Linked DNA regions of Homo sapiens. The protein of the gene in region 1 interacts with the protein of each later gene in a biochemical or structural test. Each region holds a gene or a part of one and is shown in the gene's direction. Other genes may lie near its edges. The genes, in order: DHX9, PRPF40A and PRMT1.

Region 1 (3,751 bases):
TCCAGTCTTGATCATGTATATGTACTTTTCATGAAGTTCAAATCATACCGTTTTGTATCCTTTTTCTTACAACATATAAACGTTCCAATTATGTCGTTAAAATTTATGGGGAGTCTTAATAGCAACATGATAGAATATCCTATGTTTAACCCAGATTCAGTAATCTAGATAATTGGTTCCTCCCAGTTTTTGCTATTATAAATGCTGTTTTTAACTGACTTTTGTTTTCTTAGATCTGAAGAAGACACTTGAATCATGGGTGACGTTAAAAATTTTCTGTATGCCTGGTGTGGCAAAAGGAAGATGACCCCATCCTATGAAATTAGAGCAGTGGGGAACAAAAACAGGCAGAAATTCATGTGTGAGGTACTGAAGAATACAGTTTGCATTTATGTGATTTATGAGGTTCATTTTGGGGTTAAAAGAAAAATGTTTTCTGTTTGGAGATGTTAATGTGTTGCACATTAGGAAACGACAGTTCTTTATTGTGACTTGACTGCTATTGTAAATCATTTTCAAGTCAGCATTACTTTTAAAACAATCTGACAGGTAAATTATTCTAATTAGAGCCTATATCTTCCTCAGCTTCCTCAGTACCAGTAGTGGGGATGGGAAAAGTTGGATCAACTGTTTGCAGTTTTATAAGCACGTTTAGAAAGCAGAGCAATTCTTGATTGCTTCAAATCAAAGTGCTTAAATACAAATGGAGAGCTTGTTCATGGATATTACAGAATCAGATTTTAATGTGAACCTTCTGTTATATGAGAAAAAAAAATCTGAGCCACTTAAATTATTTTTGGATACAACACAATTTAAGCTTTTTCAGTAGCTCATGCATTCTCTTATTTTTATATTTATATTTATAGAGTATATTTCCTAAAGTTAGCTGTTTGTTGTCTCTTAATGGACTACTGAATTACGACTTTTTAAAATCTCAGAATTACCCAGGTCAGTCTCTTAGTACTTTTTTTTTTTTTTAAAGGTTCAGGTGGAAGGTTATAATTACACTGGCATGGGAAATTCCACCAATAAAAAAGATGCACAAAGCAATGCTGCCAGAGACTTTGTTAACTATTTGGTTCGAATAAATGAAATAAAGAGTGAAGAAGTTCCAGCTTTTGGGGTAAGTACCTATGGCGAAGCACTTGAGATGTATGTTGTAAAGTTGTACAAACTCAATATGCGTAAGAGACTCAAGATAGTAATTTTTCACTGTTTTCAGATATATCGTGTTTCGTAATGAAATTTGGCATCTTGTTTTGTCTCAGCACTGGACAAAATTTCTGAAGATGTGGATTGCATCCTTATTATATACCTGTCTTAGGGGCTTGAGAAATTCCATTAATCTTTGTGTCTTATGGCTTTATTTCATGTATTTATACACCAGAAATTTCAGAGTCTGTTATGTTCCATTCATTACCAATGATAATACTTTAAATAAAATAGAAAAATCAGTAATATTTTAGACATGTTTGCTCCCATTGACACTCCCCCTGCCCCGTAAGCGATGAGGTCTTGCTCTGTTACCCAAGCTAGAATGCAGTGACACAACCATAGCTCACTGCAGCCTCAAACTCTTGGGCTCAAGCAGTCCTTCATCCTTAACCCCCTTAGTAGCTGGACTACAGGTGCATGCCACCACTTCTGGCAAGTTCTTTGTGTTTTGAGGCAGAGTCTTGCACTGTCGCCCAGGCTGGAGTGATCTCGGCTCACTGCAGCCTCCGCCTCCTGGGTTCAAGCGATTCTCCTGCCTCAGCCTCCGAGTAGCTGGGATTACAGGCACGCTCCATGATGCCCAGCTATTTTTTATGTTTTTAGTAGAGATAGGGTTTCACCATGTTGGCCAGGCTGGTCTTGAACTCCTGACCTCAAGTGATCCATCCACCCACTTCCGTCTTCCAAAGTGCTGGGATCACAGGCATGGGCCACTGCACCTGGCTGACATGTCCTTATATAACAAAATAGTATTTTATGCAATGGAGTATTTTTGTGTTTTTTATGTCATGATTATCTTAATTATATTACGTAAGTATGCAACAAATACCTCTGTCTAGTAGGTTGTTTTGGGGGATTTTTGTTTTGTTTTTCTGCCTTTTTTCTTTTTGGGGCTCAATCAAACTCTTGGCCTCAAGCCATCCTCCCACTTCAGCTCTTCCCCAGTAGCTGGGACTGTGGGTGTGTGCCGCTACACTAGGCTCTAGTAGTTTTTAAGAAATAAGGTTTTTTTTGTTTGTTTGTTTGTTTTGTTTTTTAAGACGGAGTCTTGCTCTGTTACCTAGGGTGGAGTGCAGTGCTCACTGCAACCTCCACCTCCTGGGTTCAAGCAGTTCTCCTGCCTCAGTCTCCTAAGTAGCTGGGATTACAGGCACCTGCCAACATGCCCAGCTAAATTTTGTATTTTTAGTAGAGACGGGGTTTTACCATTTTTTGCCAGGCTGGTCTCGAACTCCTGACCTCGGCCTCCCAAAGTGCTGGGATTACAGGTGGGAGCTACGGCGCCTGGCCCACGCCCAGCTAATTTTTGTGTTTTTAGTAGAGACAGATTTTCACCATGTTGGCCAGGCTTGTCTTGAACTCCTGACCTCAAGTGATCCGCCCCCTTCAGCCTCCCAAAGTGCTGGGATTACAGGTGTGAGCCACTGTGCCCAGCCTGTCTATGCCAGTTTTAACAGGGTCCTGTTACTGAATTTTTGTATTCTGCCTTGTTTATGACAGTATTCTGACTCGTTATGAAAGAAATCTTATTTCCTTCCATTCCTTTGACTAAGAACTCGATAGACTTACTTTCCGGTAGATTAACTGCTGGGTAATTATAGTATCTTACAGTCTTTAATTTTATTGGTTTGCCTATCTGTAAAATGAAGGGATTGGGCAAGATCATCTTAAAAATGCCTTCTGGTAGAGAAAACAGTTTTGCAAATGTCTTTTACATGTTTGAAGTCTCCCTCTATTCTTTATCTTTTAGGCTCTTCTCTATGGTCTTGTAGATCTGCTAGTGACAAATTCTCTTATTCTCTTTCTGAAAATATTTTTATTTTACCTTCTTTAAGAATATTTTCACTGGATGTAGAATTCTGGGGTACCAGATATTTTTTTCCCTCTTTTGGTATGTAAGTGGAAAAAAAAAAAAACAATTTTCCTCTTCTCTCATACCACAACAATCAACAAAGAAGATTTCTGTGACTAAATGTGGGGTGGAGGTGGGGGACTTTTTCCACACACCCCAAGCAAGCAATCAGTTCTGCAGCAGTCACTAGCAGGGTATCCTCCAGTTCAACTCTGACACTACCTGGAGATAGCGTCAGACTCCACAGGGTGAGGACTCAGTCCCACAAGACTCCCCAGCCCCTTCAGACACCACTTGCAAGTCTGGGCCTCTAGAACTTCTGACTGACTAGCTTCAAGTTATGGTTTTCATGACTGCCTCTTTGGGGTCAGTTAATTTGCTAGTGTGGCTCACAGAACTCAGGAAAACCTACATTTACCAGTTTATTATAAAGAATACTACAAAATACAGTTGGTGAAATAAGTAGGGCAAGATATGGCGGAGGCAGCAGGGAGCTCCCATGCCCTGCCTCGAACACCATTCTTCAGGAACCTCCACCTGTTCGGCCATTTGGAAGCCCTCCAAACCCTGTCCTTTGGTTTTTATGGAAACTTCATTATTCAGTATTGATTAAATCGTTGGCCATTGGTGACTTGACCTTCAGCCCTTCTCACTTCCCCAGAGGCTGGGAGGTGGGACCGAAAG
Region 2 (3,751 bases), on another chromosome or scaffold:
GTGGTTAAGACAAAATTCCATTTATGTTGAAGGGTAAGGGTAGTTGACAGAAGGGTAGATACAGGCAGGGTTTGAGAAAAGAATTTCCGAGTTGTAAGGGAGTATGGACATATTTAGTCTTGTTTGAAGAGGAGTGAGTGCAGTTGTAAGTGCCTGATGTTACTTTGGGACAGCTCTATCCAATAAAAATGTGAATGCCACAAATGCGATTTTAATTTCCTATTTATTTTAGTAATTTAACCCAATATAACCAGATATTATTTTAACACATCAATATTTTTAAAAATTGCTAATATTTGTGGTATTAAATCTTCAAGATCATTGTGTATTTTGTACTTAACAGCACATCACAACTCAGACTAGCTACATTTCATGTACCGAGAAGCTACGTTTGGTCAGTGGCTACCTTATTGAACAGTGCAGGTATAGGAATTGTGGGAACAGAATATAGGGTTACAGTTTCTTTTAGGCACATTTGTGTATAGCAGCGGTCCCCAACCTTTTTGGCACCAGGGACCGGTTTAGTGGAAGACAGTTTTTCTTGGTGGGGTGGGGTGGGGAGTTGGTATCATCAGGCATTAGATTCTCATAAGGACCACACAACCTAGATTCCTGGCATGCTCAGTTCACAATACGGTTTGCAGTCCTATGAGAATCTGATGCCGCCACTGATCTGACAGGAGGTGGAGCTGGGGCGGTAATGCTTGTTCCACCACTCACTTCTTGCTGTGTGGCTTGGTTCCGGTTCCGTGGCTGGGGGTTGGGATCCCCTGGTGTATAGGATTAAACTCCCTGAGGATTGGGTTGGAAGCAGGAAGTGTGGAAATTGAAACTAGATATGGGTTTGAATCCTAGGTCTCCAAACTACTTTGGGAAAATTATACATCCTCCTCTTAAGGCCCCTTGTTTTTTAAAAGTAAATAAAAATACCTAGAACACATTAGGCACTATTTTTAAAGACAGAAAGTATATATTTAAGGAAACATGCATATACATTCTTTAGCCTCATCATTTGAGGTAGATATCCAGTAATTTAAGTTAACTTTTACCTTTTTTTTTTTAAAGCTAAAAATTAGGTTCTATCTTAAAGGGTAGGAAATAGAACCTTAGGAAGATAATGTGCAGTTTCAAAAGTTATTTTCTCTAAAGGACAAAATATTTTTTTGCCTAGAGGCAGTTGTTACTTTGCCCAAATAGCAAATATTCTTTGTGCCCAAACAGGTTTGGGATAACATTGGTAGAAGAGTTTTAACTATGTCAAAGTTTTTGTGTGTTTTCATGTTAGACGCTTATTTCTCATGTACTCGAGATGACTTTCCAAATATAATTTTTCTCCCTAGATATTTTTAGATGAATTACATGAACATGGACAACTGCATTCTATGTCATCTTGGATGGAATTGTATCCAACTATTAGTTCTGATATTAGATTCACTAATATGCTTGGTCAGCCTGGTAAGATTATTTTCTTTCCTAATTTACCGTTATGGTAGTAGTTGAAATGGGCCAAATGCAAAGGTGATTGTGTTGGGGGAAAGGGTGCTTTATTTTTGTTTTTTAAACAACAAAGTAATTGCAGCTCTTTGGTTAGAGCTAGCTTTTGACTTCTTTAGTTTTTTCATTAGGATCAACTGCACTTGATCTTTTCAAGTTTTATGTTGAGGATCTTAAAGCACGTTATCATGACGAGAAGAAGATAATAAAAGACATTCTAAAGGTAAATATATTTATTCTTACCTTTTAACCAATAGTATATCTTAAAAGTTAGTACTGTATTCCTTTGATTTATGCATTATTAATGTTAAGATTTCTTTTTTTTAGGATAAAGGATTTGTAGTTGAAGTAAACACTACTTTTGAAGATTTTGTGGCGATAATCAGTTCAACTAAAAGATCAACTACATTAGATGCTGGAAATATCAAATTGGCTTTCAATAGTGTAAGTTATGTTTTCTGTTGTAAGTAACTAGTTTAGTAGTATAGTTTTTAATTTATTCAGATAAAAGCAGCTAAGTTGCAGAGTGTTGGAATAAGGGAATATGAATAGAATTTTACAGAGTGGTAGCCAGTCTTTCAGGTAAGGTAAAACAAAAAACTTTATTTAGATGATGGATTGATATTAAACTTCCTTTGCTCAAATTAACTGGTATTATACATAAAATGGCCATTATAAATCAGGCCTTGGGCCACACATAAAGTACACTAACGATAGCTGATGAGCTTAAAAAAAAAATTGCAAAAAATCCTTATAGTGTTTTAAGAAAGTTTACAAATTTGTGTTGGGCCACATTCAAAGCGGTCCTGGGCCACAGGTTGGACAAGCTCGTTTTAAACAATGCGTGATTCCTAAATTAACAATAAATTATTTCAGCTAATAGTTATGATACTATTATAACTGATTAAATATGATTTTCTTAATAGTTACTAGAAAAGGCAGAAGCCCGTGAACGTGAAAGAGAAAAAGAAGAGGCTCGGAAGATGAAACGAAAAGAATCTGCATTTAAGAGTATGTTAAAACAAGCTGCTCCTCCGATAGAATTGGATGCTGTCTGGGAAGATGTATGTATACTTGTTATTTTTTTCTAATGGAATTCTTTTCTTTACAGTTGAGAAATTTAAAATATTTTTATTTTTCATTTTATAGCCACAAAAATAAGCTAAATTTATTTGTAGAATATATTAAATATATTTAGAATATAATAAAAGCATTAAATCAGCTGTTGACTCTGTTTAGGAATATTTGTAAAGAATGGTTTGGACTTTTGAAGGGAGGAAATAATGGACTTTAAGGGGACTGATTCATCACAGTTTTCACTTGCTGTTATGATTTATTTTAGATGTATCGTTGTACTTTTCTTGGTATTCATATATTTATTTTGTATCTGAATTTTTCAGATCCGTGAGAGATTTGTAAAAGAGCCAGCATTTGAGGACATAACTCTAGAATCTGAAAGAAAACGAATATTTAAAGATTTTATGCATGTGCTTGAGGTAATTTTAGAATTCTCATATACAAAATATATAAAATATAAACAAATTGAAGAACTTAGAATGATGAAAGTATGTTGCTTAATATTCACTGCTTTTATACAAATGTACTTACCTGGATGGTTAGAGAATGGTTTTTTTCCTATAAAAACTGCTTTTAAGTAAAAGAAACTATTAAGTTTCCATGGGAATATAAAGATTTGTATGTGAAGACTGTTTTGTATTTTTAGAAAGTTTTAGAAATTGAGCAGTTTGGCAGCCACATGGATTGATTGACTAATAAAGAAAACTTGAAATTTTTCTTGTAAAGCAGATAGAAGACAGCTTTTAGGCACATTTGAGGTATTATACCACATTAGCTGTGTAGAAAAGAAAGTTTCTGGAAAGTAATGGAATAAATGGTAAGTTTTTGTTAAAATAAGCAATGAAACAATAACATCTCAGGTCACTTTAATAGGTAAGGTTCACTGGGCACGGTGGCTCACGCCTGTAAAACAAGCACTTTGGGAGGCCAAGGTGTGTGCTGATCACCTGAGGTCAGGAGTTTGAAACCAGCCTGGCCAACATGGCGAAATCCTGTCTCTACTAAAAATACAAAAAAATTATCAGGGAGTGGTGGCGGGCACCTGTAATCCCAGCCACTCAGGAGGCTGAGGCAAGAGAATTGCTTGAACCCAGGAGGCGGAGGTTGCAGTGAGCCAAGATCATGCCACTGCACTCCAGCCTGGGCAACAGAGCGGGACTCCTTCCCCAAAAAAAAAAAA
Region 3 (3,751 bases), on another chromosome or scaffold:
TCCTTAACTCCACCTCCAACCCCCCTTTGCCCTTCCCTGTGTCTGCCCCCATTTTCCTTCCCCTCCCCTCCCCAGCTGTGGGCTGAGCTAGAGACGGGGTCAGAGAGACTGGAGAGATGGTAGGCGTGGCTGAGGTATCGGGGTGCTCCCCTGGATGGTGCTCTGGGGGGGTCCTGGAAGTGGAAAATGGGGTTGTTAGGTTTTGGGGTTCCTGGGGGGGCAAGATGGCAGGCGGGGGCTGTAGGGTTGTCATGGTATGATTTTGGGGGTTCTATACTACTCTTCAGGGAAAAGTAGGGCGCTGGAGGTTTAAGAGGCTGTGGGGAGCCCCCAGATCTGACCCATGATCCCATCGGCCCCCTCCCAGGTGTCCTGTGGCCAGGCGGAAAGCAGTGAGAAGCCCAACGCTGAGGACATGACATCCAAAGATTACTACTTTGACTCCTACGCACACTTTGGCATCCACGAGGTCAGTGGGGACAGTCCCCAAGGCCCCAATCTTAGGGGGGCTTAAATGTTGGGGAAGGGGTGGAACCTGTTTTCCCACGCATGCGCACTGCTTCCCCTGGCCGCAGGCCGCCCCCCTGCCCCTCTGCTGCGCACTTCCTAGGGTCGCCTCGCCAAGCCGTTGCCTTGGAGACCGAGGTTAGCCTGAATCTCTGCAGGGGCCTCGCGCCGAAGGCTGGGGTGGGAGAGCGCATGCGTGCCTGGGGCCTTAGCCAGAGGTCGGGCAGGGCCCACTGGTCTCTGCCGCCCTCTAGTGACCGGCGGTGGGACTGCGCCCCGGCTGCTCCCGCCCTAACAGCTTCTGCACACTTCAGATCTGACTGAAGACACTGAAATCCCAGAACGAAGCTGGGGTGGCATTCTAAGGAATTTTCTTTTCCCCCTGAGGCCTTTTTCATAAAATTGTGGCAAAATATGCATAAAATTGCCATTTTTTATTTTTAGAGACGGTCTCGCTCTGTCGCCCAGGCTAGAGTGCATTGGTGCAATCATGGCTCACTGCAGCCTCGACCTCCCCGGCTCAGGTGATCCCCCCACTTCCACTTTCGGAGTAGCTGGGACCACAGGCGCGCGCCACCACGCCCAGCTGATGTTCTTATTTTTCTGTAGAGATAATCTTGCCTTGTTGCCCAGGCTGGTCTCAAACTCTTGGGATCAAGTGATCCTCCGGCTTTGGCCTCCTGAGGTGCTGGGATTACAGGCGTGAGCCACCGCTCCCAGCCTGAGGACTTTTAAAAGCCAGGGTTCACTGGTTCTTAGGTAGCAGTGGTGAAGTCCGGCCAAGATTGGAGTTTAGACCATCTAATCTGATTTTTTAAAAAGGGAAACTGGCTGGGCGCAGTGGTTCACGCCTGTAATCCCAGCACTTTAGGGGGCTGAGGTGGGTGGATCACCTGAGGTCAGGAGTTGAAGACCAACCTGGGCAATATGGTGAAACCCCATCTGTATGAAAAATACAAAAATTAGCCGGGCATGGTGGTGTGCACCTATAATCTCAGCTACTTGGGAGGCTGAGGCAGGAGAATCACTTGAACCCAGGAGGCGGAGGTTGCAGTGAGCTGAGATTGCACCATTGCACTCCAGCCTGGGCAACAGAGTGAGATTCCATCTCAAAAAATAAAATAAAATAAAAATAAATAAATGAATAAATATAAAAGGGAAACTGAGGTGCATGGAAGAAAGCGAGAGGGCCGAGCTCTGGCCCTCCGAGCTCTCAGGACACGCTGTTCTCCAGCTGGGGATATGGGGCCCCTCACGGCGTCTCTGTGCCATTCTTGCCCTAGGAGATGCTGAAGGACGAGGTGCGCACCCTCACTTACCGCAACTCCATGTTTCATAACCGGCACCTCTTCAAGGACAAGGTGGTGCTGGACGTCGGCTCGGGCACCGGCATCCTCTGCATGTTTGCTGCCAAGGCCGGGGCCCGCAAGGTCATCGGGGTGAGTCTCCAGGGTGGCCAGGCGGGGCCGGGCCTGAGGGATGGAGGGGAGCCCATCAGGGCTCAGGGATTGGATGGAGGTGATGGGGGCAGGGGATGGGTCTCACCCTCCCTTCTTCCTGGGCCCTCAGATCGAGTGTTCCAGTATCTCTGATTATGCGGTGAAGATCGTCAAAGCCAACAAGTTAGACCACGGTGAGCCCAGAAAGAGGATGGGTTTGTGGGAGTGGAGGGGGTGATGCCCTGCTTCCCCAGGGCCCTCTGAAGAGCAGTGGGGTCTACAGATGACCACAGATTCAGCAGCTCCCAACCCATGGTCTTTTGGGCTGCCGGCCGCCTGAGAATCTGAGTGTCAAAATCACAGGCTTAGCACCGCAGTCTTAAAATTAGGGCAAGAAGCACTCTCTAGTTTCTTGAATGAGTAATAGAGTCACGTGGTTGGCCACGGAAGGCCCACAGTGAGAAGCCTTCCCTGTTTCCCAGCTGCCCTCCTCTGAGTTTAACCAACACTAACTTCCAGAGAAGTCTGGACCTACAAACACATACATACGTAAATGCATTTACATTCTCGTGCATAATTTTCACGCCAGTAGCATTTCATACCAGCCTCTTGCCCTTGGCTTCTTACACCTGCTTGTCATGTCGTTTAACACTTTCCAGGATGTTGCGGCATCCGCTCTTTTGCATGACCACCATCATAGGTACATCCCCAGCATTTTTTTTTTTTTTTTTTTTTTTTTGAGATGGAGTCTCACTCTTTTGCCAGGCTGGAGGGCAGTGGCACGATCTCAGCTCACTGCAAGCTCCGCCTCCTGGGTTCAAGTGATTCTCCTGCCTCAGCCTCCCAATTAGCTGGGATTACAGGCGCCAGCCACCACGCCCGGCTAATTTTTTTGTTTTTTTAGTAGAGACGGGGTTTCACCGTGTTAGCCAGGATGGTCTCGATCTCCTGACCTCGTGATCTGCCTGCTTGCCTTGGCCTCCCAAAGTGCTGGGATTACAGGTGTGAACTTTTTTTTTTTTTGTATTTTTTTAGTTGAGACATGGTTTCACCATGTTGGCCAGGCTGGTCTTGAACTCCTGACCTCAGGTGATCCATCCACTTTGGCCTCCCAAAGTGCTGAGATTACAGGCGTGAGCCACCGTGCCATCCTGAAGTGATTTTTAAAAAGAGATTATTATAATGAACGCACGAGTCCATTTGAAGCAAATTCCCACTGTGATGTAATTTTCCCGGTAAATGCGTCTGCTTGTGTCTTATCTAATAGATAAAGGCTGTTTTGAGAATGTGATCATGCTGTTACTTATTATATCAAAACCACCCAGTTAAAAACAAAATCGCGGCCGGGCACAGTGGCTCACGCCTGTAATCCCAACATTTTGGGAGGCCGAGGCGGGCGGATCGTGAGGTCAGGAGATCAAGACCATCCTGGCCAACACGGTGACACCCTGTCTCTACTAAAAATACAAAAAATTAGCCGGACTTGGTGGCTGGCACCTGTAGTCCCAGCTACTCGGGAGGCTGAAGCAGGAGAATGGCGTGAACCCGGGAGGCGGAGGTTGCAGTGAGCTGAGATCACGCCACTGCACTCCAGCCTGGGTGACAGAGCAAGACTCCGTCTCAAAAAAAAAAAAAAAAAAAAAGTAACATCACCTGATACCCAGTCCACATAAAATTTCTGCTCCTGCCTCAAAAATGTCCAGAACGATGTATGAATTTTAAAACTGTTAGAAGGGTTCATGGCTTCTGCTCACGCAGTTCTCTGAACTGAAGTGGGGTCCCCAGGCTCTAGCCCCCGGGGGAGG

Evidence for each region.
Region 2: the proteins of DHX9 (region 1) and PRPF40A form a complex in vitro, tested with the Homo sapiens proteins (one study listed by BioGRID).
Region 3: the proteins of DHX9 (region 1) and PRMT1 form a complex in vitro, tested with the Homo sapiens proteins (one study listed by BioGRID).

What each region holds. Positions count from the first base shown.
Region 1 is NC_000001.11:182,842,312-182,846,062, forward strand, and holds part of DHX9 (ATP-dependent RNA helicase A), read left to right. Parts: intron 1-233; 5' UTR 234-255; coding exon 256-366; intron 367-982; coding exon 983-1,123; intron 1,124-3,751. UniProt on the Homo sapiens protein: Multifunctional ATP-dependent nucleic acid helicase that unwinds DNA and RNA in a 3' to 5' direction and that plays important roles in many processes, such as DNA replication, transcriptional activation, post-transcriptional RNA regulation, mRNA translation and RNA-mediated gene silencing.
Region 2 is NC_000002.12:152,661,842-152,665,592, reverse strand, and holds part of PRPF40A (pre-mRNA-processing factor 40 homolog A), read left to right. Parts: intron 1-1,340; coding exon 1,341-1,455; intron 1,456-1,613; coding exon of another isoform or gene 1,614-1,625; coding exon 1,626-1,717; intron 1,718-1,821; coding exon 1,822-1,938; intron 1,939-2,420; coding exon 2,421-2,558; intron 2,559-2,894; coding exon 2,895-2,990; intron 2,991-3,751.
Region 3 is NC_000019.10:49,680,120-49,683,870, forward strand, and holds part of PRMT1 (protein arginine N-methyltransferase 1), read left to right. Parts: intron 1-20; exon of another isoform or gene 21-116; coding exon of another isoform or gene 117-134; intron 135-367; coding exon 368-469; intron 470-1,790; coding exon 1,791-1,946; intron 1,947-1,997; exon of another isoform or gene 1,998-2,076; coding exon 2,077-2,140; intron 2,141-3,751. UniProt on the Homo sapiens protein: Arginine methyltransferase that methylates (mono and asymmetric dimethylation) the guanidino nitrogens of arginyl residues present in proteins such as ESR1, histone H2, H3 and H4, FMR1, ILF3, HNRNPA1, HNRNPD, NFATC2IP, SUPT5H, TAF15, EWS, HABP4, SERBP1, RBM15, FOXO1, CHTOP, MAP3K5/ASK1, MICU1 and NPRL2.